4 separate regions of the Homo sapiens genome follow, and regions 2, 3 and 4 are each linked to region 1. Evidence: fine-mapped expression QTL. A gene starts in region 1. Each other region holds a variant in brackets. All regions are shown on one strand. Distances are from middle to middle.

Region 1 (7,631 bases):
TTGGTGACGAGGGATACTCAATAGTGCCATTTTCCAAAACAGGGAAGACTAAAAGAGGAACCAGGTTTAAAGGGGCTTTCTAGGAATAACTAAATAAGTGATTGCTTTAATTCCTTTCCTTTAAAAATTACATTTTTCCCCCCTAATTCTTGATCAGTATGAAGCAGATATATCACAGGTAAAACATTTTTGTAATGCAGATTTTAGGGCATTCTCTTTTCAACTATCAACTGTTTTTCTTTATTACTATGTTTAATGAAACAAAATTGGTTCTCTCTTCATTCCTATCCAGCTTTTTCTCATTCATTTTCAACACTTTTAAAAAGAAGGAACTTTTAAATGCAGAAAAAGGAAAGAAACTATAAGACAGGAAGTTCAGCCTATGAATGAGAATTAGAGATGGGGTATATTTGGCAAATATTACTTATTGGGCTTCAGTACCACTGAATCTTTGTCTTTTCTGTAGCTATTTTCAGTTACAATCTCTATAACTGTCTACAATGAAGTTATTAATCATTTATAGGTGGTCATCTGGCTAGTTGGAAGGAAAAGCCAATGGTATTCTAGACTTTCTAGCACTGAATAATCTTCTTGTGAAACATATTGAGCTTGTCATAACAAAATCAGCTTAACTGCTGATTTTCTTTCATTCTGCAATGAACACACCATACTTTTCCCTGAAACTTTTTGATTGGATAGCTTCTATGTGGTCAAATGATGAGTCCATTTCCTCCTAAACAAACCACTGTAAGGTTTCAATACAAATCTCAAGTGCATTTTTCTGTTTCTTCTGGCAAATGCATAAGCACAACCAAATATTTAATAATTTATACAGTTTATATTTTCAAACAGGTTTTAGACAATATTCTTTTGTTTATAAACAACAACAGCAAAACAAATTCAAAGTCACTTAACCTTAATTTATAGGCAGTGTATTGGGGGTATCTCTTTTTTTTTTTTAAATTTGTTGTTTATTTTTTAATTAATTAATTAATTTTTTACATTTTATTATTATTATACTTTAAGTTTTAGGGTACATGTGCACAATGTGCAGGTTTGTTACATATGTATACATGTGCCATGTTGGTGTGCTGCACCCATTAACTCATCATTAGCATTAGGTATATCTCCTAAGGCTATCCCTCCCCCCTACCCCCACCCCACAACAGTCCCCGGAGTGTGATGTTCCCCTTCCTGTGTCCACGTGTTCTCATTGTTCGGTTCCCACCTATGAGTGAGAACATGCGGTGTTTGGTTTTTTATCCTTGCGATAGTTCGCTGAGAATGATGGTTTCCAGTTTCATCCATGTCCCTACAAAGGACATGAACTCATCATTTTTTATGGCTGTGTAGTATTCCATGGTGTATATGTGCCACATTTTCCTAATCCAAAACAGGAAACATAGGCAGTCCTCGAAAGATTCTGGAGCTGTTGAGTGGAAAGCCATCAGGAATTAGCATATCTCTCTTTCTGTCACTGTCTGTCTGTCTCTCTTCCTCTCTGTCTTTTTGTGTGTGTGTGCACGTGTGGACGTGTATGAGTGCTTTTCTCTGTTTCTCTATTCTCACATGTTGTTTCTCACCTCACCTTCATTTTGGTCATCCACTTTTGTCTTTTTCCTCCCTCAGCTGATCAGTTTTCATTACTTGACCACACTTATAGCCACATTCAATGAGTCCTCAACGGTGTCCATAGGTTATTGAAAACTGCGATGTAAAGTGAAACAACATGTAATGAAACCAGTTTTACTACAGACAAATTGATATCAACATGAGTTAAATTACTATACCATATTTCTGGTCACAAAAACATCACCAACTTCTAAAAAAAGACCAAAATACTTCTAATATTAAACAGTAAAATAAACTATACATACATTGAGTAAAGATTAATGAAAACAAGATAATTATTTACCTCCTTACTCCAGTTCAGGATCACAGGTGGCCAGATCCTACACCAGGAGCTCAGGGCATGAGGTGTAAACCAGCTCTCTTCAGGAAGCCATCCTACCGCAGGGCGCGCTCACATACCCAACCACAATCACTCAAGCAGGGCCTATGTAGACATGCCAATTCACCCAACACACAGAGAGTTGAGAAGTGGAGGGAAACGGGAGTACCCAGAGAAGACCCACATAGACATGGAAAGAACGTGCCAATTCCACATAGACATTGGCCTCTGCTGGAAATCGATTTTTTCCATCAGTGTTATAACAAAATAACGTTAAACAAAATGACCAAGGACCTGCTGTATGTTTTAGCCTCTGCTTCTGAGTGTACTTGTGTTCAGCTCAAGTAAACCCCAGAAGCAATCCTATCAATTTTACATTTCTGGAAAAGGGCTCACTCATTTAGTAAAACATGGGATGAGGAATTCATATGTTACATAAATATGTATTTTCCAGGAAGGTTACTCCAAACTGTGCAGACACTGTAATAGAGTAGTGCCAAGAAATGATGCACCTTTATATAATAAGACATAAGAGAAAGTATAATTATGTAGAATATTACCCTAGTTCTAATAACAGTAAACTGTTACATTCGACCATAATAGCTACTTTGGACCAAATGCTATTCTGAGTGCTCTTTCTCCAGATGCTCTTCCACGCTCCCAGCCACACACAGGCATGCACATACACTTTTGATTCTTTAAGTCTATGGGGTACTATTATTGTCATTTCTATTGTACAGAAAAATGAGGTTAAGAGGAGTTGAGTGTGCTGTTCAAGGTTACACTTCTGATAAATAGGTAGCAGATCTAGAATTACAGCCCAGGTGTTTTTAACCTAGGATTTGTGGACTTAATCACTGGGTTTTTCTGCCCCTTGAATTTGGTATTTTTTTTCACTCAAGCCCATCACTTTGTAAATTAACCTGACAAAAACTGAGTTATCTCCTTTTCCTAGAAAATTATCATTTGAAAATTTTCTCCTGTTAATCTTTTAATTTAAGCTATATTGTACTTATTAGCACTTGGCTTCATTTCTTCTTCCCTCTGACATTCTTATTATTTGTCTCAGTGATATTTACTGCATTTTACAAGTGCTGTCAGTCTCTATATTGCGGGGTACCATGCATCCATTGTTTTTAATGTTCAAAAATATAAAAAAGAATCTTATACCAATTTTTGATTAACTTCACGAGACATAGATTAAAACATTTTCATTACTTTTTGTTTTCCATACAGTTCTATAACTAATTTTTTTTTTTTTTTTTTTTTTTTTTGAGATGGAATCTTGCTCTGTCGCCCAGGCTGGAGTACAGAGGAGCTATCTTGGCTCACTGCAACCTCTGCCTCCTGGGCTCAAACGATTCTCCTGCCTCAGCCTCCCGAGTAGATGGGACTACAGGCGAACGCCACCACGCCCATCTAATGTTTTGTATTTTTAGTAGAGATGGGGTTTCACCATGTTGGCCAGGCTGGTCTTGAACTCCTGACCTCAGGTGATCCGCCTGCCTCGACCTCCCAAAGCACTGGGATTACAGGCGTGATATAACCAGCATTTAATTGATACATTCTTGCAGATCCAAGCCAGGTTACTGAGACTTGAAAAAAAATTCTTAAGTTGCTTTTAGTTTTTTCCATCTTTAGTCACATGGAGGGAAGTTGGGTTTTGGCACAAGTTTATTGTAAACTCATAAACTCATAAACAATCAAAAACTGAAGAAAAAAATAAGGCCCACGATACCTGAAATTGTATTTTGATGGAAGTCAGATAAGTAATGTTGTCCTCCAAGAAAGTATAAAAGTTTACTACATTTGTATAGATACTGCTAGAAAATAAATTCACAAAAGTCCTGCTATGATTTGATTCACATCAAATTACTTTGTTCCTGGTGATTTCACAAATAGATTGAGAAAACTGACATTTAATTTCTTGTCTGTTTTATTAGAATTTTTTAAGCGGAAACAAAAGACTTAACTGTACACTAAGAAATCTCTGGGTTTTCATTGTGCCTACATTATATTGCCCTTCCATACTTAAGCCTTAAGATAAAAATCACCTGTCTACCGTCCACCAAAAAGTAATATTTTATTTTTAATCCAGAAAATTGGGTGCCCTTGCTGCATTTGAAAGATGGCTACACACAAGTATTGTGTACCAAAAAGAAATTATTTCCAATATGGGTTAATATTTTTACTATGGAGATGATAAGCTTTAAAATTTTAAATGGTAATTTACCTTTCAAATTAAAAATAAAGAATTATATGAAATTAAAAAAATACTTGTTTATGCATTTGGACACCTCCTGTTTCCACCACCATGCCTAGGCCAACCTTGAACCTCCAAATTTGTGGGTGGAACCTTGGTGCCCACTTGGACCCCCAAACTATCCTCTTCAGGTAAAGGCTCTGTGAGAACCAAGTGCAAGGTGATGGATGGGAGACTCAAGGAATGAGACAGCCAGGGAAAAACTAGGACAGTGAGGTTTCATTTTCAGACATAAAAAGATGTAGAATCAGTTGAAAAAAGGACCCTGTTCCTCTGCAGAGGCAACCACACTTCTGAAGACCTTAGACCTGGCACGGTGGCTCACGCCTGTAATCCCAGCATTTTGGGAGACTGAGGGGGAAGATCGCTTGACGCCAGGAGTTCAAGGCTCCAGCGAGCTGTGACTGTGCCACTGCACTCCAGCCTGGGTGACAGAGTGAGACCTTGTCTCGAACAAAACAAAACAAAACAAAAACGAGGTTGGGGGAAGACATTAGAGCCCTCTGATCTTCTAATAACTCCCAGGTCAACCTTGGGAGTCGTGTGGCCATGTGCTAAAGCGTCCTGGGACAACTGTAAGAGCTCTGGGAATCACTGGCAAATACAGGTGACAAACCTCATGGTTTGGCTAGTGTCTAAATGCGGTCCTTTCCACTTCTGAAAACCTGTCACAGAGGCAGAAGAAAAGGCATCTACTGTTGCAACGTTAGTGTCTACTCCTCCTCCTGTCGTTCATCACTGAGATCTAAGGTGACAGGAGCATTTTCAGCGCCTTCGCCTTGGGGTGCAAACCAGTAGCGCCCATTACGCAGTTAGGAATCCGTCTGCAGATACAATCATGGGAAACTTCCCCTTCCAACGGAACCTTGTGAGGCTTCTTTTATGCGAGGTCCATCTGAGCAGTTTCTAGGATTACCAAGTTTTCATACAGCCTCTGTTAGAACAGCAAGACGCAGCGGGCGGAGAGCTACATCCCTGTAGCTTGACTCCTGGCTGTGCGACTGCACGGTGACATCCAAGGCGGCGGAGCCACTGCCGGTACACGCTGGGCTATGGGGACAGGTTGGGCGTGGCTTTCAGGTCAGCCAGCAGCCAAAATGGGAAGGGAGGAGTCGCAGACGGATTACGCGAAGGCTCTATCCCACGAAAGGACTGGGTGCACCCCAGAACGAGGACGCGGAGCTTCCCTGTTCCAAGCAGCAACAGACTGAGAAAATCCAAGAAAGGAGGCCCGAGGGGCTGCTGTGGCCCCATCCTCCTGGCACCCGCGGCCCGGGCTCTGCGACGCCTTTCGCCCCACCTGCGGAAGCAGCGATGCCTGGCGGAGCCTGCGTGCTGGTGATCGCGCTGATGTTCCTGGCCTGGGGGGAAGGTAAGCGAGGTAGGGCGCGCGGGGGTGGGCGCGCAGTGGCGCCGCGTGGGCGGTAGAGGGACTAGGCTAGACTTTTTGGACGACTTGGGGAGCGTCCCTGTGCGTTTTAAGGCAGCAAGCGATGTTTGTTCCTCACCCGCCTCCTCTCTGTCCCTCTGCTGTCTTTGAAAAGGTCAATTTCCAGCTTGAAAACTCTACACTTTTCTTTTGCGCACATGCGGTTGTTGCCTCCTCTTACTCTACGACCCTTGGTTCTGTTTTTGGTTGTTTCCTGCTGTTATCCTGCTCTTTGAGGTCATTGTAATTTACTGTAAGAAACTTTCGCCGGATCTGCAAGGTATGCTAGCCGCAAGTGGACCTGAATTCTCAGAACAGAGTTGAATTCCATACTGCACGAATTCCACCTCCAACCGGACCCTCAGAAATAATTCATTGGTGAACATTTTATCCCTACAATAAATCACCAAGTTAAGTTTTGTATATCCGTATTATACTGTATTATGGTTTTTGTATATATATGTTAGAATCAGTTTTGGCACTGTAAAAGAGATCTCTGTGGAGCGAATACTCCCCTCCTACTTCTTTAATCCATGACAAAGAACATTTAGTTTAAAATACAGTGAAGTTAAACCAAAACTACTTTCATTAGCCCTTTTTGCTTGTTTTTTGTGTTCATACAGATAGGAATATTAATGAAAGGTGACTTGTTCTTATATTGCAAGTTTCCTTACGTTTTTCAGAAAAAGTCTGATCTGTGTTCAACCATCTGCAGCTTGAAAAAACATTATGTACAACATTTATAGCAGTCCAGGGTATAGTTTTGTCTTATCATTTTTTGATCTTAACTCATTTTACTGATGTAAGTTTGCTTTGTATAAGGGGAATACAAACACTATCCTATACAAAACTTAAAAATAAAATACTAAAATCAAATTTATTATTTTCTGCAATGATATTTTTTCTGGTCCTTCTTTGGTTTGCTTACAGCGTTACTAAATCTTTATGAATAACTTTAAAAAATACATGTAATAACATATATCTGTTCATTACAGTTAGATAAATATTTCCAGGAAAAAAATGACCAATGTTTATAAAGGAAGATGATTTCATGTTTACTATAGACCGCATAACCCTTTTTTGCCTCTATATAATAGCTTTGTAATCTCTCTGCTGAAGACAAATATTACCCATTACCAGGTTTTAAGTTCATAACATTGGTAACATTGTCAAGTTCTTTATGTTTAATGGAGTAAAACTAGAAGACGAGGTAAATGGAAAATGCATTTATTGAGACTTCTTTTTTTCAAATAGCTTTATTAAGATGTTCATATACCATACAAATCACTCAAAGTGTGCGACTCTATGGTTTTTCATTTTCACAGATATGTGTATATTCAGAGTATATTTACAGGTATATGCAGCGATGACCACAGTCAATTTTAGAACATATTTATCAATCAGAAAGAAATACTATACCCTGGGCTATCATGCCGCATGCCGGCTATCACCCTCCCTTTCTCCCCAGCGATAAGGAATTACTAATCTACTTTCTGTCTCATTGCATTTGCCTATTCTGGATATTTTATGTAAACTGAATCATATAATAGGTTGTCTTTTGTGACTGGCTTACTTCATCTAGCACAGTATTATCAAGGTTCATTCATCTTGTAGCATGTACCAGTATTTCATTCCTTTTTAAGATAGAATAATGTTCCATTGTGTGGATATACTATATTTTGTATGTACATTCATTTGTTGATGAACATTTGAGTTGTTTCCACCTTTTGACTATTATAAATAATGTTGCTATAAAGCACCGAGGTACAAGTTTTGTTTGGATGTATGTTTTCATTTCTCCGAGATATATGCCTAGGAGTGGAAATACCGGGTCATAGGGTAACTCTGTGATTAACTACTTAAGGAACAGCCAGGATGTTTTCCAAAGTGGCTGTGCTGTTTTGTATTTCTGCAACAGTGTGTAAAGCTTCTAACTTCTTCATGTTTCCATCAACACTTTTTATTAACTGAGATTTGGATTCTACCTA
Region 2 (7,631 bases), 110 kb after region 1:
GTATGCTCATTTGAGGTGGTTTTCCTTTACCAGCTGAGGGTTCCTAGAGGAAGGTCATGTAGCAGTTAAACTCTACCATTTTGCCTCTTAGTGTGGATACTTGAGCCCACTTACCCAACTCCTAAGATCTTACCAGGAAGCTGCTGCTCACCAGGTTCAGGTGTTTTCTATTGTGAGACTGCCCTTTCCTGGCACCAGGTGCGACCAATTATTATTTTAGAAAGACAGTTGAACAAGCTGTCTGATCACCTGATGGCCCCCTGACATTCCTGTCAGGGGAAGGCCTCTCTTGCCCTGCACATGTCTGCCTAGCTACCTACTCTAACAGTTTCTGTTTTAGGAAACAGAATCTTCTGCTTTTAAAACAGAATTCTAAATTCTAGATTCAGTAATCCAGAACTTAGATTCTAGATTACTCAGTTTATTTAGGGTGGGCTCCATTAATGAATAGGGCAAACAAGCATTTTCTATGCCTGGACTCCACATGGATAACTCTGAAAAGGAAGAAAACCTTCTTTACATGAGGGCCAAAATTACTTTTTATTTAGCTTTCTTTATTCCTTTAGGGAGGAATAGTAACTATGCTAAAGGTTGACAGATTCAATTTTTTAAATCAATTAGTCTCTTAAGCTTTTTAATTGCCTTTTGTAAACAAGTCTTTTAAAAGATGCAATAAAAATTGTACTGAAATCTTTCTAGAGGCTTCCACACATCAATAGGAATCCCTGGGTAAGCCTAATTTGGTACCCCTCATTTTTAAGTGCACTTTTTAAAGTACAGTATTCTTCATCTGGGAGGTTCTATATAATGGCCATTGTAATTCTCCATTATCTTAAAAAAGATTTTGCCTTTAAAAATTTGAGGCTACCAGTGCCTAATATTTATACGTATAAAAAGCAGGCATAGCTGGAAAGTGGAGTGGTCAGTTCTTTAGAAATTAAGGATCTTGTTTTTATTCTGGCCCTTGGGTCAATCAGAGCAGAGATAAAATCCTATGATGAAAAGACCAGAGCATTGTGTATTCTAATACTTTCACAGAGTACCTCATTGCGCAAAGTTTTCTTGAAGCTGATGGGTGACCTACATCAACTAACCCATTTTTGTGACCATGGGAGTCTTATTTTGGTGGTGACTGCTCCAATACCTCTTAGGTGCCTATTCCATGCCTGTTACTGGTAATTAGTCAGGTATGAGCGTGGCAGGAGACGGTTCCACCCACCCCCACCCCTATCCCCACCAGGAACGTCAGGCAATCATCAGGTGACCATTCAGCAGCTATCACAGTAGCTCTCTAAAAATGATAATTGGCAGCCAGTGCCAGGGAGAAGCAACTTCCTGATGGTTGACAGTTTTCAAACTAAAGTGATAATTAATTGCAGGCAGCAGGGAGAAGCAATTTCCCAAACAGATAAAAACACTTGACATTGGTAATCAGCTTCCAATAAAATCTCAGGAATTGGCCAAGTGAGCTCAGGCATGCGCATTAAGAGACAAAATAGCAGAGTATGGCTTTCTGGGGGCATTCCACCAGAAAAGGGAAAACCCAGGTGGGCATGCATATAACTTCCTAAACACACTGTGCATGCTCACCTCCCAAGCATAAGGAGGGCACTGCACATGTGGGCAGCTCACCCTTCAGAAAGAATGTAGGGAAAGGGATGCAAGAGGTCAGAAGTGGGCCAGCACATAAAAGTCTTAGGATCAAGTTTAAATGGGGAACTTGCCTTCACACTGCCCACTTGAATCTCTTCCAAATGTACTTTCCTTTCTTTCCTGCTCTAAAGCTTTTTAATAAACTTGCACTCCTGCTCTGAAAGTTGCCTCAGTCTCTTTTTCTGCCTTATGCCCCTTCAGTTGAATTCTTTCTTCTGATGAAGCAAGAATTGAGGTTGCTCCAGACCTGCACAAATTTGCTGCCACTAGCATGCCCACCAGTCAAGTTTGTGTCTTTGGCTCTGAGATTGCCTTGACCAACATAGCTAATAATTTTTCTCTACCTAAGCATGCAAGAAAAAAACACATTTCTGAAAACTTTCAAAAGCCAAAGTTCATACTTCCGGCGGTAATTGCCATTTACTGCTAGTTTCTGCCTGACTTAGTCAAACACCTGAGGCCTCCCTACAGAACCCAATCCTGTTTCTGTTGTGACTTTCACTCTTATCGGTGACTTGTCAACCACACACCCCAAGGTTGGTACTCTCTTTTACAGCACAATCTAAGCCTGGATTCAAAGGCCAAAAAGATCTGGGTTGGGGGAACACTCAATGCAAGAAGAACAGAGTCTGATCCAAAATGAAGTTGCAGCATGTAGCGGTCCATAAGGAAGAAAGGGGATCCATGAAGGGGTCAATGGAGGCTCTCCTGTGTTCCTCAATAAGTCTCATAAATTTTCAGCAGCATTTTGGGTCCCCTTCTTCTGGTAACCAGATACTGTCAAAAGACAAAATTACAATAAACTTAGTTTAAATATCCTAATTGGCTTTTATTTGCAATTTTAGAATCAGACAACACATTATTCGATAAAATAAAATGAATGTCCTGATGAACTGAGCAAAGTTATTTGGCTTTATAGACAGAAAAGTGCTAAAGATAGCAGAAACAGAGAACAAAAAGACAATTGGTGTTTTGAAATTGCTTTCCTTGTAAAGGTTACTTCCTTATCATGCTGGCTAAAACTGGCCTGTTTGGAGATTCTGCTATGATGGAAATAAAAATATTTTACCCCAAAATAGATTTCTTTGACATATTTTGAGATGGCTGTTCAGAGAGAGAGCAAACTGACATAACCCTGAAGGGTTATCTTTTGTAGGAGAGATTTGCATCTGTAGAATATCTACATTAGTGAGCCCAGGTTTTCTCTGAGGCCTCTCCTTGTCTGGATCAAGGAAAAATTAACTGAGAGTTCAACACCTTTAAAGGTTTTTAAAAGCATTTACTATCTATTCTCTCTGAGGGCTGCTATCCTCAGAGAGGGTAGGTTTCATTTACATAGCAAGACTATCTTTGTTAGACAGGCCTCCTCTTCTCCCCCTCTCATATCCTGCTTTACCACCTGTATTAGTCCATTTGCATGCTGCTGTTAAAGACATACCCGAGACTGGGAAGAAAAAGATTTTTAATCATCTTACAGTTCCACGTGACTGGGGAGGCCTCACAATAATGGCAGAC[A/G]GCAAAGAGGAGCAAGTCACGTCTTACATGGATAGCAGCAGGCAAAGAGAAAGAGAGCTTGTGCAGGAAAGCTCCCATTTTTAAAACCATCAGATCTTGTGAGATTTATCCACTATCATGAGAATAGCATGGGAAAGACCCACCCTCATAATTCAATTATCTCCCACCAAGTCCTTCCCACAACACATGGGAATTATGGAAGCTACAAGATGAGATTTGGGTGGGGACATAGAGCCAAACTGTATCACCACCTTAACCTGTTTTGCGAGCAATCCAAGCCCTTATTCTTTCTGTAACCTCAAGATGTTATAAAAACATCTGAACACCATTCCAGGGTAGGGTAATTACATTGTAGTTCTCCCTTGTATGATTGCTAACAAATCTGTATGCTTTTTCTTCAATTTGTTTTTTGTAAGTTGACTTTTCAGTGAAACTTCAGAGGGTGAAGGGAAGGTTTTCCCCTGTCCCCTGCAGCTATAATCTCTCTCCTGATTTCTTGAAAGATCTGATAAACAACTTAGTTTTGGCTTGGTGGCTTTGAACTTCGGCATAAATAACTTCATTTTGGCATAAGTAACTTCATTTTGGTTTGGCCTGTTGGGCGTAGTGCAGAAGCCCAGTTCAAATAATAGCTTTCTATAAATTTTACTTAACAATCATTTTGATGAGAAATGGCAAATAACTAGGTCAATTTTTCCAACTGTAGGGACCAAGGGGAACCCTTATAACCACCCAACAGGTTCACTTTGCCCAGTGCCTAGACAGAGCTGATTTATCAAGACAGGGGAATTGTAATGGAGAAAGAGTAGTTCACGCAGAGCTGGCTGTGTGGGAGACCAGAGTTTTATTACTATTCAAATTGGTCTCCCCAAGCACTAGGGAATCAGAGTTTTTAAGGATAATTTGGCGGGTAGGGGCTCAGGAAGTGGGGCATGCCAACTGCTCAGGCTGGAGATAGAATTATAGGGGTCGAAGTGAGTTTTCCTTGCTGTCTTCTGTCCCAGGGTGGGATCATAGAACTGGATGAACTACATTACCCTTCTGGGTGGTGTCAGGTGATCCATCAAGTGCAGGGTCTGCAAAATATCTCAAGCACTGATCTTAGGATTTACAATAGTGATGTTGTTCCCAGGGGCAATTTGGGGATGTTCAGACTGTTGTAGCTGGAGGCTGCGTGACCCCTAAACCTTAATTTCTAATCTTGTAGCTAATTTATTAGTCCTACAAAGGCAGACTGGTCCTCAGACAAGAAGGTTTTTTTTTTTTTTTTTTTTTTTTTTTTTTTTTTTAAAGAAAGGGCTAGTATCATTTTTGTTTCAGAGTTAAAGGTTAGTTCAGCCTATGCCCAGGAACGAACAAGGACAGCTTAAAGGTTAGAAGCAAGATGGAGTTGGTTAGGTCTGATCTCTTTCATTGTCATAATTTCCTCCGTTATAATTTTTGTAAAGATGGCTTCACCCTTGGCCCTCTGGAGGTTTGCTGAAAAAAACCAACTTGCAAAGGGCAGATTAATAATAAAAAAAAAGGGCATATAAATTTATGTAATATGTATGCATAGGAGACTTCAGAATGAAGATTTTACCCCCAGTGTGGTACAGATGCTTATGCATCATCTTGAGGTTGCAGAAGGAATGTGGGCTCAGAACATGACCCAAAACAGGTTATGCTGGTAAATCAGGTCTTAGTGGCAAGACAGATTCTGGGAGGGAGGAAACAGGAAGCTTAGCTAGTAAAGGTGGCGTTGTTATATAGATGAAGCTTTGCTTCACAGGCAGCAGCCCTTGGAGAGAATAGATGGTAAGAGTCTTTTTCAGACTTTTGAATGTTTCAGACTCAGTTAATCTTTCTCAGTTAATCTGAATAAGAGACGGGCTGGCTGCATTAATGTAGATTCTCTGCACATCTACAAATGCAAATTTCCCCCACAGAAGACAGCTTTGCAGGGCCACTTAAAAATATGCCAAATTAATATATTTTGGGGTAAAATTTTTTATTTCCTTCACACTCCAAAATCCACTGTACCCTGCTCCCCATTCTTGAGCTTTCCTTCTGACCTCACTGTGCTTTTAAATAAATAAAATGACCAGAAATAAAATCATAAATGCTGATGTGACAATTGTTTAATAGTCATGTTTCTAGTTCTTAGGTTGAAGGTGTCTTAAATTATCATCAATATTTCATCACATATAAAACATAGTTCAGCTATTAAATTGTAGAACATTTAAATCGGGAAAGAAAAAAAAATCCAGTTAAGATCTGGACTCTAACAATCCAAGAGACTAAAAAGTTTTAGTACCTATGTTTTGGAGTTGGTAAATTAAGCTTGTCTTAGAAGTTTTAAATTTAAGGAGAAACTTTAAATTCAGGGTATTATTGGCTACAGCACCAATGTATTTCTTTTGAAAAGATAGTGTTTAAATGAAGCTTTGCTTTTGTGGGGGCCATGGCCTTTGGCCCCCTGAAGTTTCACTGAATATCACTAACATGGGGCAGATTGATTAAATAATGGGGGAGGTCAGAGAGGCCTTGAGGTTTCTTCAGTTCAACATGCCAAAACATCATATTTTGGGGTATTGGTTTTGTAACTATCCAACGGGTTCTCCTTGCCCACTGCCTAGACACAGCTGATTTATCAAGACCAGAAAATTGCAATAGAGAATGAGTTTAATTCACTCAGAGCTAGCTGTACTGAAGGCCAAATTAGTTTTATTACTCAAATTTAGGAGGACAAAAATCGCCTAGTGCCCATCAAGCAGACCATCCAAAGTCAAACTCCTTATCTGAAAAATTTAGAAGTAATTAGACTTCCCTATTATCTAAAGCCAGCAGCTGGTACCAGGCTTCTTTCTCAAGAATTTATAAGTAACCAGAATTTCTATTCATCTCTGGAATGCATGTATGTTGAGACTCATAATGCAACCCTTGCTGACATTAGTGTTACAGGATTCTTTCAGTGCTGCTTTTGCCAGCTGGAAATCTCTGTGGCCACCATGACCTCTGCCTTGGGCCTTGCTTGGACCCACCAGGCTCACTCTGCCCACTCAGCCTAGCAGGCTGCACTTGGTTTGTTCCCCGCCCCAGATCCCACACCTGCCATGGGATCCACACTCAGCCTGCAGCTGGAACGGTCATACCACCACCAGCTTCCACCTTGGGCACCAGCATCTGGATGAGGGGAATGCAGTAGCAACTGAAATCTCAAAGATGCCAGCAACTGCACAGCCCTGAGGAATGCTACAGATCTTGCCCAGGGACTCCCAAGCTCCAAGGTCCAAGGCCCCAAGAAGTGTTACAGCTGTCTCTCATTCCTGCAGCTTGGCAAACGGGCATGTCACAGCACATTCAGTCCCACTGCTCACAGCTCAGTAAAGGGGGACATGTCACAGCTCATTTGGATTTGCCACTGCAGGTTGGAGAATGAGGGCATGTGGCACTCAGCGGTTTTTTCACTCCCGTAGCTCAGCAAGCAGGAGTGTATGTTACAGCTCTTTTCGCACCCACTGTTCAGTGGATTCTAGGTTCTTGTCCCGTGATGAAGAGGAATGAAGTACGTGGACACTGGAGAGTGAGCAAGGCAGATAATTTTATTGAGTGACAGAAAAGCTCTCGACATGAGAGGGGCCCAGAAGTGGGTAGCCCTCTGTGTGAGAAGGGAACAAAAAGTGGGTTGCCACCTGTGAGGCTGAGTCCAAGGCTTTTATGAGAAAGTGCATGCTGATTGATCCATGGGTGGGCCTGGAAGAAGCAGCATTCAATTGGCTAAAGGGCATCAAGGAAGTCCTCACTCTGGTTGTGAACTCTACCTGGAACAGGAAGCTCAGTTTTCAGGCTTTAGACTGTCCTTGGCTCTAAGGTCAGGTTTCACTGGGGACACGACCCTTTCTGGCTAGGAATTTGACTGTTTACTGTCACTATCAATCCCCCCTCTGAAGAGGTACGTCTAACTGACATTATTACAGGGATGGTGACAGGTCTAACTGCTTCATGCTGACAGGGGCATTGTTTTGGGAAAACAGCAGTTAGATGTCTCTCAGAGGTCTACCTATGGGTTCCCGGTAAAAAGAGCCATCATCTGAGGCTCTATTTCCATGACCATTTGGAGTTTGATGGTCTCTAGGTAAGAAGAAACAAATTTTAAAAGGAGGTTAAGTATGCATGGATCAAATATGAGTATTATACTAATCATTCTGAAAACAATGTTTTGATCAGAGCTGTTTCACCCTGGTGAAAGTAAGTCTTTAATGGGGGTAGGGAAGCTAAACTTCAGAAAAGAGATAGCTGTTTAGGGGAGTAGATAATGCCATGGGCTTTCAGGATTAAGGGATTTTTGGCAAAGATGCCTTATGGTGAGGAATAGAATGAAGGCAAGAACAGCAAGCATAGGTGAGACTATAAAGAGGATATCCATAAAATGTTAGTGACACTTATGTTTTGTGATCTTTAGCTTGAGGTCTCCAATTTCT
Region 3 (7,631 bases), 320 kb after region 1:
AGCAGTAGCACCTTGGCTAGACCCATCTGTATACCATGCCCTATTAGGAATGGGGGGATGCACTTCCTAATGGTGAAAGCTCAGCGTCTAGGGGTGCCTCAGGCCCCATGGCCTTATCTTGCATTAGGATCCTAAGGCTTCTTGTAACTCTGCTGCTAAGGGAGTTGTACTCAGGGTACTTCATTCTTCCAGGTAGGCACCCCACTTCACTAAAGTGGATATGTGCCATCCCAGTCCGGGGGGCCATGAATGCACCCATCCTGCTATTGGGTAAGTTGTCCACACGATGATGACTGTAACCCATCCTGACATGCTCTTATGAGCCTGAAAGGCAGTGTATGCAGTTACTAACTGCTTCTTTATTAATGAACACCAGAGCTCAGCTCCCTTCCATATAGCTGGGACTAAAAGCTTACTGGTTCTTCCAAGTACTCCATGCACTGCCATAGGCTCTAACCAATACTATCTGTAATTTCATGTACATCAAGTTTAAATGGGAGCCCCTGGTTAACTACCTGCAGGGCTTGAGCCTGCTGAATAGCCTGCTTGGCTATTGGAAAAGGCTGCCTCAGTCTTATCCAAATCTAAGGCAAGAGGGGCGTTGCCACTTTTAAATCTGCAAGAGAATCAGAAGTTAACATAACATCATCAACAAGACTATGACATAGAGTGGGGCTATGCATATTGCCCTGTAGCAACACTGTGAAAGTCCATTGTCACCCTCCAATGAAGGCAAACTATTCCTGGTTCTCTGGACAAGAATCCCAGTTCCATTGTTAAGCAGTCCAGCAAGTCTGTGACAGATGGTACAGCTGCCAAGCCGTGTAAAACATCCCCAGCCAGAATGTCCTCAGGCATGGGAGAGACATACACAGTTCATGAGCGGAAAACCAAGCAGCAGATACCAAGATGCAAAGATACAGGTTTCGCTTTCACTGACCAGTCTTCATAACCATCAATAACTGCAGCTCTGCCCAGAAACTTATCCGGGTTCAGAGTCCAGTAGATTGCCAAGTCCACATATGGTCTTTGGTCATCCAGTGCCCCCCTAAGCCAGGCATCTTGGTCAGTCTCTTATCAAACAGAAAAGGCTTTACACTTCCACCTAACTGCAGCAGGCAGTCTGTGAACTGGAATGCTTGGGCAGGACTGGGTTGCGCAGCAATGTCCTTCTCCCATGTGACTTACACTAAGTCTGCACATGACTGCCGAGATTACTTGCTTAACTCCTGCAACTCAGTGGGGGTATAAGCACTATAAGAGCTGTGTTCCACCACTGTGGGGGGGCCCTGGGCTCTCCCCTGGGGTCCCATTGGCTGCTCATGTTCTGCCTTCTGATGGATCACAGGGTGAGCCCGCAGCAGAGGAGCCTCCTCCCTGCCTGGCATCCTGCAGGAACTGGGCATGCACCTCCCGCAGCACAGTTACAAATGCCCGTCTGACTCTGCTGGCAAAGGCATGTTCCTCATTGGTGCTGTGCACTTCCAGGTACTTCAGTGCCCTCTTCATACTCACAGGAGACCCATCCACTGCCTCCCATGTTTCCATCAGATCCCATCCTCCTCGCAGCATGGCTGCCACTGGGTACCACAGTCCATGCTGCGGCCACAGAGCCAACCCAGGAGCCCTCAGGGGCTGAAGACCCACTCACCTTATCCTGCTGACAATGCCAATTGTCAGGTTCCAGCCCCAGCTGAGGTCCAAGGGGAGTGGGTGGATAGCTGAAAGAACACTCCGGGGGCGCCATAGGCAGGTGAAATGTAGTTTTATTTAGCAGGTCTCTCAGTAGCAGCTTACTCACATTAGCTCTCTAACACTGTCCACCTTTATCTCAGCTGTCTGCTCTGGCTCTGCAGCTCCTGCCCTTCCGGCAGCTGCATAGCAGGCTCTCCCTTGCCTTCAGGGTCAGCAGCTTAACTCTTTCTCTCTCTGGGCACCAGCACGAGCCATGCAATAGCTGTCCTCTGTCCGTCTGCAAGACAGACAGCTCTGATTCTCTCTCTCTCTTTCTCTGGGTGCCAGCGCCATGTCAAGCCATGCCCAAGATCCTGTACAGTGTCAGCAGGGCAGTTATACCTTCTACAGACAATAGTGGCTGAGAGCCAAGTATGAGCTTAAACAAACAGGTTACATAACAAATGGAGTATGTGCCTGCACCCTAAACTCGCTAAGTAATGCAGGCCTGGATGTCTGCCTTGGCCTAATTCTTGACCAAAGCACATCCATGTACCTTACAAATTGTTTGTCTTCTAACAACTGATAACCTAGAAAAACTTAGGCAAGCACCAAACAACAGAATAGTAACTCAGTAAAGGAGGTGTGGCATGCCCACAAACACAGAACCAGAAGGCCAGGCTGAGTGGATGTGAATTCCTTTTTGTCATTTGTTAGCTACTTTATATTGGGTAGATTTCTTAAATTCTGTGACATAGTTTTTTAATCTATAAAAATAAATAATAGGGCTGGTTGCGGTGGCTCACGCCTGTAATCCTAGCACTTTGGGAAGCTGAGGTGGGCAGATCACAAGGCCGGGAGTTCGAGACCAGCCTGGCTAACCTGGTGAAACCCCGTCTCTACTAAAAATACAAAAAAATAGCCTGGTGTGGTGGTGGGCACCCGGTACTCAAGAGGCTGAGGCAGGAGAATCGCTTGAACCTGGGAGGCAGAGGTTTCAGTGAGTCAAGATCGCGCCATTGCACACCAACCCAGGTGACAGAGCAAGACTCCATCTTGAAAAATAAATAAATTAAATAAATAAATAATAATAGTATCATATACCTCACAGAGTAGAAAAGAGGATTCAATGAGTTAATATATCCATAAAGTGCACTCAATGAATGTATGTATTTTAGTATTTCTAAAATAATAATAGCTCACAAAACAAATGCCAAATCCTAATCTGTGTCTAACAGTTACAGAAATTGTACCAGTCTCAATCATTTTCACATAAAGCAGAAATGAAGGTTAATACAATTTCCTTCCCATGGTTATCGTTTGTGTGACCCTTAGCACACTGGCTTGAAAATTCTAAAAAAACACAAACACAGTACACTGGAATCTAAACGGACAAACTATTTTCAGAAGTATTGGCTATAGAGTGAACCATAGCAAAGGGGACCAGGAATACCTTTTGCTGATCAGGATATTTAATCCTGCACATTGGAAGAAAATAAGAGCTGTCAGCAAGCACACACACCCCATTCTAGAAAGAAACCATCCCCGACAGACTTAATGGGTCATGTGTTCTGGTCAGGTCGTAGGGTTCATGGTTCCCTCACTCATCCCTCACAGAAGGGGCCTAAATGGGAACCCTTAATGCTAAGGGGGTTCTGTGCAATTCCTGAACCTATGGTTGGAGGTGCTCCTGATGTTTTGCTGGTTTAAATTACCTTCTTTGAGTTTGGAACAAATTATTCTGAAGAGTTACATTCCAGTACCCTGTCTACTTTTCTATTTCTGTGTTTCCTGTTTGTTCCTCTTACCACTCTGGAGATACAGGCCACAGTGAGATTGTGTTCACAGTGAGTATCATGGTAAAGAAAAAGGTGGAATATGGTTCCCTAGTCCTCTCCCCACCCTGCCCCTGTAGACCTCCTGCCAACACCCACACTGTGCAGAAAGCTCTGAGGATAAAAGTTCATGGTAAAATCTAGAGATTGTTTTAAAAATGTCTCTGAAATGACTAAGTTGAGAGTTATGTTTTCCTATATTAATGGAACTTTGAAATGGCAAATGATTTATATTGAAATGTATCTTTTTCTACCATATTGTGTGTTTTGTAAGTTATAACCTCTATGCAGTCAATAATGTTATACATTTCAAAAATAACTGACCCTCAAATTCCAATATTGATAATAGCTCTGCATCAATCAATACTAGTCTCTCAGACAAATTAGTGTTTACATTGACCAGAAAAAGTCATTATATGCATATTAGCTAGGTACCACAACATAAATTGAATTAATTTAAGGAGTGAAAAATATACAGCTTTTTGTATTATTTCATATTTGATACTTCCAGCCTTAATTCTTTACCACATTTTTAATGTTAACAAATTATCCCAATGAGCAGCTATCTGCTCATTAAGTGAAATAAAATATATAAAATTTTAGAACAATGTCTGGCTCATAAAGGTACTCATTAAATATTATAATCTGACCTCCTTCAATTTTTATCTTTCAAGACTAAGAAATTAAGAATTTCATCATCTCCATTATATATCTACATATAGATAGAAATGCTAGAAAATGTGGCATTCACATTAAAGACCAAATGCTGCCTCATTGATGTGGCTGATTTATTCTCAGAATGGTGAGTGTGGATGGAGATTACAAATTGGGGAGTACTGCAATGTTTTACAAGAACACTTGATAAAAATGTCACTCTTTCTCTGCCCCACTCCAAAGCACTGTCCATATAACAGGATTTTTATGTTCAAGACCAGGAGTTTGCCTATTCCTTTTTTTGTTCTTATTTCTTTTTAATTTCTCTGTTCCCACCATCTTTACCAATCCCTGTACACATGTGTGTGTGCTGATACATACACATAGTCCAATATAGTATGTCCATGTCTATTCAGTACCAAAATCTTTATTATCACATGAATAAATGCTGCGATATCAACTGTATGTGTTAAGTTTTAAGATTATTACTTCACATTAATCCATGTTTAATAGATAAGGTTCTATAAAATTGCTGATATTTAGCCATATTACACCTTCAGTAAAGATCAGCCTGATATCTTGGTCTTATCCAAGGTATCTGGTCATTGCTCTGCCAGTCAGCAGCACTCTACGTGTGAACATATCATATAATATAATGAGATGCCATTATAATTCTTGGCTAGTCAGGATGTTGCTTCTTAGTTC[A/T]TTTGATTTGACTGTATGCGTGGTTCTGTTCCACTAGTCCACATTGCTTGCTGGGGTTCCCTTTAACTGCTCTTAAAAACACTCTTCCTTTTTTTTACTGTGACTAAAGATACCTAGACTTATCTTTTTCTTCATTTTAAACTTTTACAAAAAAAAAACAAAAAACAAAAACACAGAAGGAAACTTGACTTAAAATAACTTTTGTTTTATACCCAGCAAAAAGTATCTGAGATAAGGAAATGTTAAGGAGGTCTGTACATGCTTAGAGTGGGAGAGGAGAGAAAATGCTTAGAGTGTACATGCTTACAGAAGGCTTTTTTTATTCTGACCCCTCATCCTCAACCAGCTCCCATGTAGCTCTCCTACTTTGTAGCAAGGCCAGAGCAGAGCTCCAGTCCCAGTGCTAATACTGCGATTAACCCCCAAGCCAAACCCAGCTTTTATATTTGCTTCCAACTCGTAGCTTTTGACCCATTTCAGGATTTTGTTTGCCTGTTTTTGTGGAGAGTATTTTTTTCCCTCAATTTCTGAAAATCAAGCAAAAATATAAAAAGCACGTTATATATTAGATTCAGTTATTTTGTCTTTTTTTCTTTTTTATGGTCTATAAGGTGTACAACGTGATTTTTTGAATACACATATACTTAGTAAAATGATTACTATAGTTGACCAAATTAACGAATCTCTCTCCTCACATAGTTACCTTTGTGTGTGTGTGTGTGGTAAGAGCACCTAGTATCTACTTTGTTAGCAAATTGCCAGTACACAAAATGATATTATTAACTATCGTCATCGTGCTGTGTATGAAATCTCCAGATACATCCTGCGTAACTGCAACTTTGTACCCTTTGACCAACATCTCCCCATTCCTGCACTTCTGTAGCCAGCATTCTATATATCACTTCTATGTATTTGGATTTTTAAGAGTCTCATACCTAATACAATACATATTACAGTATCTGAGTGTCCAAAAATGTTTATTAGGTGAATGTGTACTTGACTACCTAACATTTTTTTCACATTATAAGTTATATGACATTTTGAGAGTTGGGTTTATTTTACTTACCATCGGAAATATTGTTTCATTGGATAGCTCATTTAGTTCAGTTTACACAATTGTTATTGAATATATTTTATGTGCTAGTTTCTTTTGCAGAAAACACATGCCTGCTTGCAAGATTGGTCCTTGACTAGCATCTGGGAACTTTAATGGTAAACAGTTCCCTACAATGATATAAAACTTTAACTACATGAAAAAAGTGGCTTGGTATGCCTAGCTGTGTAAAATGTGGTTTAACACCTGGTTTTCCTTCTAGGAGTCTAGAGTTTTGCTAAAGACTGGGCAGAGAGTATTTATGTGACCAAACCCCAGTATAAACCTTAGACACTGAATTTCTGATGAGTTTCCCTGGTAGACAACACTTCACATGTGTTGTCACAATTCTGTGTTGGAGGTAAAGAGCATATTCTGAATATTTCACAGGGAAAGAACTCTTGGAATCTTGTGCCTGTTTTTTTTTTTTTTTTTTTTTTTTTTTTTTTTTTCTGGTCTTTGCCCCATGCACCCTTTGTCTTTGCTGATTTAGCTTTGTATCCTTTCACTGTAATAAATCATAGCCAGGAAAGTAACTACATGCTAAGTCCTGTGATCCCTCCTTGTGGGTCACTGAACCTGGAGTGGACTTGGGGACGTGTGACAGAGCTGTACATCAGACAAACTGAACATATAAGAAAGAGCCTTTCCCATGAGGAGCTTATAGTCTTGTAGAATAGAGGGAGTAGGAAGTGTGTAAGGGGCTTTTAGATACTCAAATAGATAATTTCAACATCATTTGGTTGATAATAACCAAATCATGCAAAGAGTGCTATGGGAACACCAAGAAGAGACACTCTTTCTAGGAGTTCGGGACAGGTTTTAAAAATGAGAAATACTTTGCCAGGTACAGAAAGGTAGGCAATACATGCCGAACAAAGAGACCTGAATGTAAAATAAAATAATATCAGTGATAAGATTGATAGTAATGGCCACAAGAATAACAATAGCAAACACGAAATGCTTACTAAGTACCAAGAATTTTTTAAGCCCTTCTATATATTAACTCATTTGATTCTCATAGCAATGCTGTGAAGTAGGTAATATTATTATGTGTTTTTAGAAAATGAGGAAATGAGGGTACGGAGAGATTAGGTATATTGTACATGTTCATATAGCTTGAATATATTACTCTGCAGCTTGAACCCAGAAAATCCAGTTGTTACTCTGTGCTAGCTTTCTAAAGAAGGGAAGCAGGATATATTTGTTTAATTATTTTATTTTTTAATTCCAAACTTCTGACATAGAAAATGCTTTTTAAATTATAACACATGCGAGTTGGAAATTTCCAGAATGAAATATGCTACTATTATCTTGGTGGGAAAATAAGACTTCCAAATATAAAATAATAGAAAGCAATATAAAATGTCATATTCGAATATGTAATATAGTCTAAAAGAGGCAATGTATATATTAAGCATTATTTCCTTTATCCATGTGGAGACTTAATGATATCTTCACTTTACCTAAATCCATGATAAAAACATGATAACACATAAATGAATAATTGCCTCACTTATTGAATAAAATCTACACTCTCCTTGGATAATCTTTAATTTGGAGCTTCTCTGCTATTACATCTGACTTAATATTTTCAGTGGTGAATGAATTATTTTTTTTATCTTTGGTGTTCACATTTATACAAACACCAAAGGTACAAAACCAGAGTA
Region 4 (7,631 bases), 87 kb after region 1:
CCCAACTATATATCTGGACATGACTGTATCTAGAGAGTCTTTGATTAGAGACACTATGAGCTTAAGAACAATAATGAAACTTACTGGACATACACATTATAGTGAGAATTATCCCAATTTATTTTCTAATTTCATAGATGATATACAGGTGATGATAGATTAGACAAATAGGTATAGATACAATGTATATAAAGTAGATTCTATTATCAAACTTTAATCTTCCTCACCAAGGAATTGGTTATAATCCTCGATAATATGGTCAAGCGATATTGTTAGGGTCTAGTTTGGTTTCGTCTAAGATCTCAAGATAATCATCTGTACTTCCTTCAGTGTTTTGTTTTAATGCTGCCCAAGCTAAGAGGTTCCTTTCTTTGTTGAGGGCTCTGATTACTAAATGAAAGGAAATTCTTACGGCTTGTGTATGTGTCTTTAGGCACCAAGACCTGTCAATTATTTTTTGTGGACAACTTTGATGCTTCCTCCTACATTAGTTAATGGAGATGGTGACTGTGTGATACTTCATCTCCCTGATCTGTCTGCCTATTACATCAGCATTCTCTGATGATGCATTCTCACTGCTGGCTGATATTTTCTGAGGACTGTAGGAGGGGAGGATATTAGTTTTCAACCCTCTTCTTGTGAAAATAATCAATTATTCCTTGGGTTTTGACCTGAGATCTATCTCCCCATATCAAAGAGTCAAGCCATTTCCAGTGTAATGCCATAAAATACCCCGGCTGCAGCATTACAGATGAAGTAAATTAAACATTACAGACAAATATATTCTGACCACTCATTTCTAATAGTGATTGGCCTACATAGAAGACTTGAAGGATACTGGCTGGTTCAATCCAGGAAAATATTGCAAGGCAGCAACAGAGTTTGGTTTAACATGTGGGTACTTACATAAATCACAGGCAAATATTTTGAAAAATATACTTTTATTTTATTTTCATTTCTATAAAAGAAAAAATAACTAGAGGAAATGGAATTTTGTGCTACCAGAACAAAACCTAAATTGCTCACTTTGAGGGTTGTCTCTGGGCTGTCTGCCTGGCTCTGTGTGTGGAGCAAGGGTGAGATTTTTCTAGATCCATAGGGCTGAACCAAGAGGAGCAATGAACTAGAGAGGACAGAAGGTAGTTTCCAGTTAATGATCAAGTCCTGATGCATAATATGTTCAAAAAAACTTCCAGTCTTAGATTTGCACTAGAAAGGAAGAGGGTGACAAGGAATTTGTTGTTTTTTCTTCTCAAATGAGAGAACAGAGATCTCAGACAGAGTAATACCTGTCAGCACTGCTTGAGTGACTTATCTTCCAGCCACCGTTAAACCGAACAAGGAAATTTATATATCTCATTGTTTTGAGCACTATTGTTGTCTTCCAAGTGGGTAAATATTGAGTGTCCACCAAAATGCCAAAATTCATTTCTAACCTTTGTGGGTAGGCAGATTACAGGCTCTGCCAGTACCTGTTAGTAAGCAGCAGTGAGACAACTTGCTAGAAAAAGAATGTTAGATTTCCCCACCATCAGGGAATACTAAAATGATGAGCATGGTTAAAAATAAATGAGTAACCAGTTTTTAGCTTCTAATAGAACACTCATGCTGAAAATACACATGTAAGATTTTAACTAATTAGGCCTCAAGCTCTTTTTAAAAGCCACATTGCAATTAATTAAAATGACTGCTACTTATTTTTTAAAAAAACAAGGTAAATTTTTTATTATACCTACCAAACTGTCAGAGAAAGTAAACATGCTTAAACTCCCATATTACAGTTTTTGTTCTGAAATAGATAAACTATACAATCAACTTTATTTCTTTTTTCTCAAATTTATTTTTAATTGACATAAAAGTATATGTATTTGCCATGTATAACACGATTTGTAGTATATATATGTTGTGAAATGGTTAAATCTAGCTAACTAGTGAATGCATTACTTCATATAGTTGTATTTATGGTGAGAACACATAACATCCACCTTCTTAGCTTTTTTCTTATTTTTAAGTTGCTCATTTGAGTTGAAGTTGGCCTGAATACTTCAGCTAATATTGAACAATAATTGAATTAGATTAACAAATACAAATTAAAATCAAGATGTGTAACCTTTGAGGACCAAACTTGAGTTATTTCCCCTTTAAGAGCAGTGCTATAAAAGGAGACCGATCAGTGGAAATTTAGAAATAGCCATTTAAGAGAGACAATGCTTAGAGTAAAATTCTATCTCCAAAAACATTTATTGTAGCATGGTTTTTAATATTAAAATTTAAAAATAAATTATATGTGATAAATTAACAATTATAAAATAATAAAATGTTAAGTGATCATTAATAGAAAAATAGTTATATCATTATATTTCAAGCCATGAGATTTCTATATAGCCAATAAAACAATCATTAATGTAGAGCTATATCTTATATTGTATGAAGATGACTATGTTAGATGAAAAGATGAGAGAAATATTTCCAGACAATAAATATAGTATACTCCAATTTAAAAATGCATATGTTTTCATATGATGGGGCTCAGAAAACAGTATTTTAAAATGAAGGCCTCCGCAGCAGCCTCAGAGCAAAAGTTTTTTTCTGACCTTTTCCTGTTCCCCTGTCTCTCAGTCGTGTTCTCCCTGGAGGCTAGCCATAAAAACTAGAATCTCTCTTCCCCAAGGCAGGTCACAGAAATCAGAGCCCCTTTTCTCCAAAGCTAGTCATAAAACCTAATAATATTACTCTATTTTTCCCTTGCCTTTCTGTGTAAAAACTGGCCATAAAGAAATTGTCTGACATACCTTGTTTGACTGTAGATCATGAGACCCCCATTCTAGAGAGGGCTCTTCCTCACACCAAGGAGGGAATGCATGCTCAGAAGAATCTAGACAGCCAGAGTTTCCCCACTCAGCCCATTATCATTATATCTTGCCCTTTTTGTCCGATCATGTTTCTACATGGCTATCCATAACCTAAACATAAACATTGACAATTTCTTCTGTATCCTTGAGTCTTCTGAAAGCTCCCATGTATACATGTTAAATAAATTTGTATGCTTTTTCTTCTATAAATCTGCCTTTTGTGAGTTGATTTTTCAGAGAATCTTCCAAGAGCCTTTGGCCCCCACACATATATGTGAATACACATAAGTTTTTAGTATTATAGAAAATGTATAAAAAGACTGATACCAAATAATTAAGATTTGTTACCTCAGGGGAGTGGGATTGGGAGGTAAGGGGTGATTTAAGTAGATTTTATATATTACTTTATATGTATTTGTACTACTTAACATTTTTATAGTTATCTTAGTTTCATAATGTATCTTTTGCAGAATCTTCAATTAGCCTTAATGCAGCTTTTTGGAAATACCAATTTAGGGACTTTAAGAATAATATGAGTTGAAAATTAAAGAATCATTGCATTATTTTTCTTAATTCAAGAGGGGCAATAAAATTAATAAAAAAAGTTATGTGTATAAAATTTTAGTTGTATTTATAGTTATGCTCTTTTCAGAGTAAAAGATTCTGACATTTCATTATTGCAGATGTATTCAAGTTGCAAATTATGTATTTAAATTAAGGGAAATGGTCTACAGTCCCACCAGTGTTATTGTAAGATTAAAATTAATTACGCAGAATTTTTGTATCAGGCCAAACTGTACAGGTAATCAGTCATAAGCTAATGTTATTAGCTTGATTCATGTTATCAAACTGTATTTCTGATAACACCAGACAAGGGGGTGGTGGGGCAGAGAGATACTACATATCAAAATGATAAAACCAAGTTCTTTTGTTTGCATTAGTTTAAATATTTACAGGTTACATTTATGGCAGAGTTTAGACTTGAATAATTCAAGCAAAAAGCTCACATTTGCCTAAATTTGTGGGAGCAAATATACCATAAAATAATGTTTCCTACTTGTAAGTTTGTAGAGTGTCTTTTATGTACAAATTCTGAAACTTTTAAAGGACTGAGTTTGAGAGTTCAAATTGAATTAATGAACATTTTATTTTAAAGATAGAATTAAAATGCACTGTTCAGTTCATATAGGTAATTTGAGGTGCACAGGGAATGATGCAACTTTCCCAACAACTCACAAATCAGATGAAATGCAATGGTTAATTTTCAGTAAAAACTGGAGTTATCGAGAGGTCAGTCTCATATAGCTAGAGATTTGTTTTATTTTAGAAGATGGTGACTACCTTATTTTTTGAAAAAATTATGTGATTTTTATATATACAAAAGAAAAGAGTACTATATCTGTAAACTTATAAAGCATAACAAAATGGACACCCACAATTCAATCATCTAATTCAGAAATATGCCAAAGCCAATACAATTGTACTGATGACTTCTTTGCTTTTATTATAATCCTGCTGTATTTTATGTTAATCACCTGTGCTAGGCAACCTCTAAGATGGTCCTAAATGACCCCCACTTTCCAGTATTGACACCCTTATGTAATCTACTTCCCTACAGAGTGAACTAGACTTGTTAGAAGTGATTCACTTCTAACAAATACAATGAAACAAAAGTAGTGAATGCCACTGCTGATATTAGGTTATAAAATAA[T/C]TGTAGCTTTCGTCTCTCTCTCTTTCTTCCTCTCTCTCTCTCCTTCTCACTTTCACTCCCTCTTTCTCTTGCTTGCTCTACGGAAAACCAGTTGCCATGATGTAAGTTTGAAGTTGTCCTATAAAAGGCCCACAAGGCAAGGGACTGAGGGAGCCTTCTAGCCAACAGGCAGGAGAAATGAGGCCCTCAGTCTAAACAGCCCTGAGAGAATAAAATCGGGTCAACAACCACATGAGTAACTTTCTAGTGGATCATACCCAGGTCTTATCTTAGAAAAGACCACAGCCGACACCCTCACTGCAAGCTCATGAGAGATCTTGAGCCAGAGGCACTCAGTTAAACCAATCCTGAGTTCTTGACCCAGAGGAATTGTGAGATAATAAATGTGTGTTGTTCTAAGCTACTACCTTCTGCAGTAATTTGTTCATCAGCAGTACATAACCAATACATTATCCTTGCCTTTTATAGTTCTCTTAAAGGATGCACAATGTATTAATTTCTGTTATATTGGAACTTTAAATTGTGTCACTAATTCTTTTAATTTTTGTGGGTACATAGTAGATGTATATGTTTATAGGGTACATGAGAGACTTATACAGGTTTCATAATGTGTAATAATCATATCAGGGTAAATAGGGTATCCATCACCTCAAGTTTTTATCCTTTCTTTGTGTTATAAACAATCCAATTATATTCTTTTAGTTATTTTTAAATGCATGATAAATTGTTGACTGTACTCTGTTGTGCTATCAAATACTAGATCTTATTCATACTATCTAACTATAGTTTTGTACTCATAAACATCCCTGCCTACCCCCCACCCCCATTACCTTCCCCAGTTTCTGGTAACCATCATTCTACTCTCTGTCTCAATAAGTTTAATTGTTTTGAATTTTAGCTCCTACAAATAAGTGAGAACATGCAACGTTTATCTTTCTGTGCCTGGCTTATTTCACTTAACATAATGACCTCCAGTTCCATCCACGTTGTTGCAAATGATAGGGTCTCATTTGTTAAGACTGAATAGTACTCCATTGTGTACATGTGCCATATTTTCTTCATTCATCTGTTAATGGAGACTTAGGTTGCTTCTTAATCTTGGCTATCGTGAACAGTGTTACAATAATAAACATAGGAATGGTTATTCTGCTTAAACTGTTCTCAATAGTGGTTGTATTAATTTACATTCCTACCAACAGTATACAAAGGTTCCTTTTTCTTCACCTTGTCATCAGCATTCATTATCGACTGTCTTTTGGATAAAAGGCGTTTTAACTGGGGTGAGATGATATCTCATTGTAGTTTTGATTTGCATTTCTCTGATGCTCGATGATGCTGATCACATTTTCATACACCTGTTTGCCAATAGCTTTGACTATTCTGGGTCTATTGTGGTCCCATATAAATTTTAGAATTATTTTTTCTATTTTTTAAGAATGCCATTGGTATTTTGATGGGGATTGCATTGAATCTATAACTTGTTTGTGGTAGTAGGGACATTTTAACAGTATTGATTCTTCTAATCCATGGAATATCTTTCCCCTTTTTTGGTGTTCTCTTTGATTTTGTTCATCGGTGTTTTATAGTTTTCAATATAGAGCGCTTTCACTTCTTTGGTTAAGTTTATTTCTAGGTATTTTATTTATAACATTATAAATATGACTACTTTCTTAATTTCTATTTCAGATTGTTCACTGTTGGCATATAGAGGTACTACAGATTTTTATGTTAATTTTTGTATCCTGCAACATTACTGAATTTGTTTAACAGTTCTAATAGTATTTTTTTTAATGGAGTCTTTGGGTTTAAAATATAAGATCATATTATCTGCAAAAAATAATTTGACTTCTTTCTAATTTGCATGCTCTTTCTTTCTCTTGTTGGATTCCTCTGGTTAGGACTTCTTTAATTCTTTATCCTGCAAATTTTTTGCTTGCCTAAGCTTGTAGTAATTTAAAATATGTTGAACTATGTCTTTATTATTTTATATTTGTCTACTTTTCCCTGTAGTTTTATCAAATTTTTCTTTCTATGCTTGAGGCCATTAAATTGGGTGCATACAAGTTTATAGTATGCTAGCTAAGCCTCTTAGACAGCATTGCATAGTGGTTAAGTTCAAGGACCCTGGAGCCAGATTGCTTTCTGGATTGAGTCCAGATTTCTCTCCTCATTGACTGTGTGACTGAGCAAATTGCTTAAGCTTCCTTCATCCATTGCCTTGTTTGAAAAGATGGAAAGGTAAATAGAAATAATACCTACCTAATAAAATTGAAATGAGAACTAAATAAGTTAATACTTATAAGCCTGCTTGTGTGCCTACAACAATGGTTGGCATGCATTTAACATTGTATAGCTGTTTCTAAATCAATAAATGTTCTGACCTCTTTATTCCTAATAATACTTTTGCTTAAAGGTTATTTTGATTGATATTGCTATAGCTACCCTGTTTTTTAAATAAAATATTTTTCTAATCTTTTTCTACTGTACTTTCAGCCTGTCTATCTTAGGTTTTATGTGTACCACATAAATTCAATTTCAACCTGAAATTCCTTTGTAAATACTAGGGTGGAAAGATATAATACCTATCCTTACCAATCATAAAAGTCACAGCCAATATTCCTATAACCAGACAGGTTAACAAGAGAAAAGCATAATAACTTTATTTAATCAAAGTTTTACATGACACAGGAGACTTCAGAAATGAAGACCCAAAGACCCAAGGACAACTGTCTATTTTTATATTTAGGTTCCATGAAAAATGAACAGGCATGTAGAAATGTAACTGGATAAAAGGGTTTCATCTAATATAAAAGGGTATAATCTAATGGTAACTGAAGGGGGAAACTCAACAAGTCCTGTCTGTTCAGATTCTTAAGCTCTCTGTGTAGCATTTCTTCTGAGTATTGGACAGCACTCCTCTGAAATGAGGATCTTCAAGGGAGAAATGAGAAGTGTGAATGACCCTTCTGGGTTTTATGGTTTGTGTGTGGGGAGAAGAGTTCTAGTTTCAATGATTCACTTTGAAGAAAAGGAAGTCTGATTTCTATGAATTGCTCAGGTGAATGAAG

Which allele goes with the higher level. Alleles are on the strand shown, and positions count from the first base shown. SD is a standard deviation of normalised expression in the study named. Not every link is listed here.
In carriers of allele G in region 2, the expression in atrial appendage of the gene that starts at base 5,380 in region 1 tends to be lower than with A alone (moderate effect, 0.56 SD a copy in GTEx).

The links. PIP is the estimated chance that this variant, and not a neighbour inherited with it, causes the effect.
Region 2: its variant is the best candidate, but not a certain one, in a credible set for the expression of VWDE in atrial appendage (GTEx, PIP 0.76).
Region 3: its variant is the best candidate, but not a certain one, in a credible set for the expression of VWDE in whole blood (TOPMed, PIP 0.65).
Region 4: its variant is the best candidate, but not a certain one, in a credible set for the expression of VWDE in lung (TOPMed, PIP 0.87).

Annotation. Positions count from the first base shown.
Region 1 is chr7:12,401,614-12,409,244 of GRCh38, reverse strand. It overlaps VWDE (von Willebrand factor D and EGF domains), which reads left to right and starts at 5,380. Exons shown (of 29, transcript NM_001135924.3): 1 at 5,380-5,586. The coding sequence starts at 5,529. LOC105375154 (a long non-coding RNA gene) reads right to left here and starts at 3,107. Exons shown (of 3, transcript XR_927035.4): 1 at 1,916-3,107; 2 at 1,589-1,707; 3 at 819-1,429. RefSeq lists silencers at 4,458-4,647, 5,585-5,634, 5,528-5,822 and enhancers at 4,959-5,524, 5,525-6,092.
Region 2 is chr7:12,295,130-12,302,760 of GRCh38, reverse strand. No RefSeq gene overlaps it. Among named protein-coding and RNA genes, the nearest start is that of TMEM106B, 88 kb to the right of the region's middle. The variant A/G (reference allele first, on the strand shown) is at 3,169.
Region 3 is chr7:12,084,610-12,092,240 of GRCh38, reverse strand. All of the region lies in intron 1 of LOC124901589 (a long non-coding RNA gene), which reads left to right. Among named protein-coding and RNA genes, the nearest start is that of TMEM106B, 120 kb to the left of the region's middle. The variant A/T (reference allele first, on the strand shown) is at 4,869.
Region 4 is chr7:12,314,327-12,321,957 of GRCh38, reverse strand. No RefSeq gene overlaps it. Among named protein-coding and RNA genes, the nearest start is that of VWDE, 86 kb to the left of the region's middle. The variant T/C (reference allele first, on the strand shown) is at 4,564.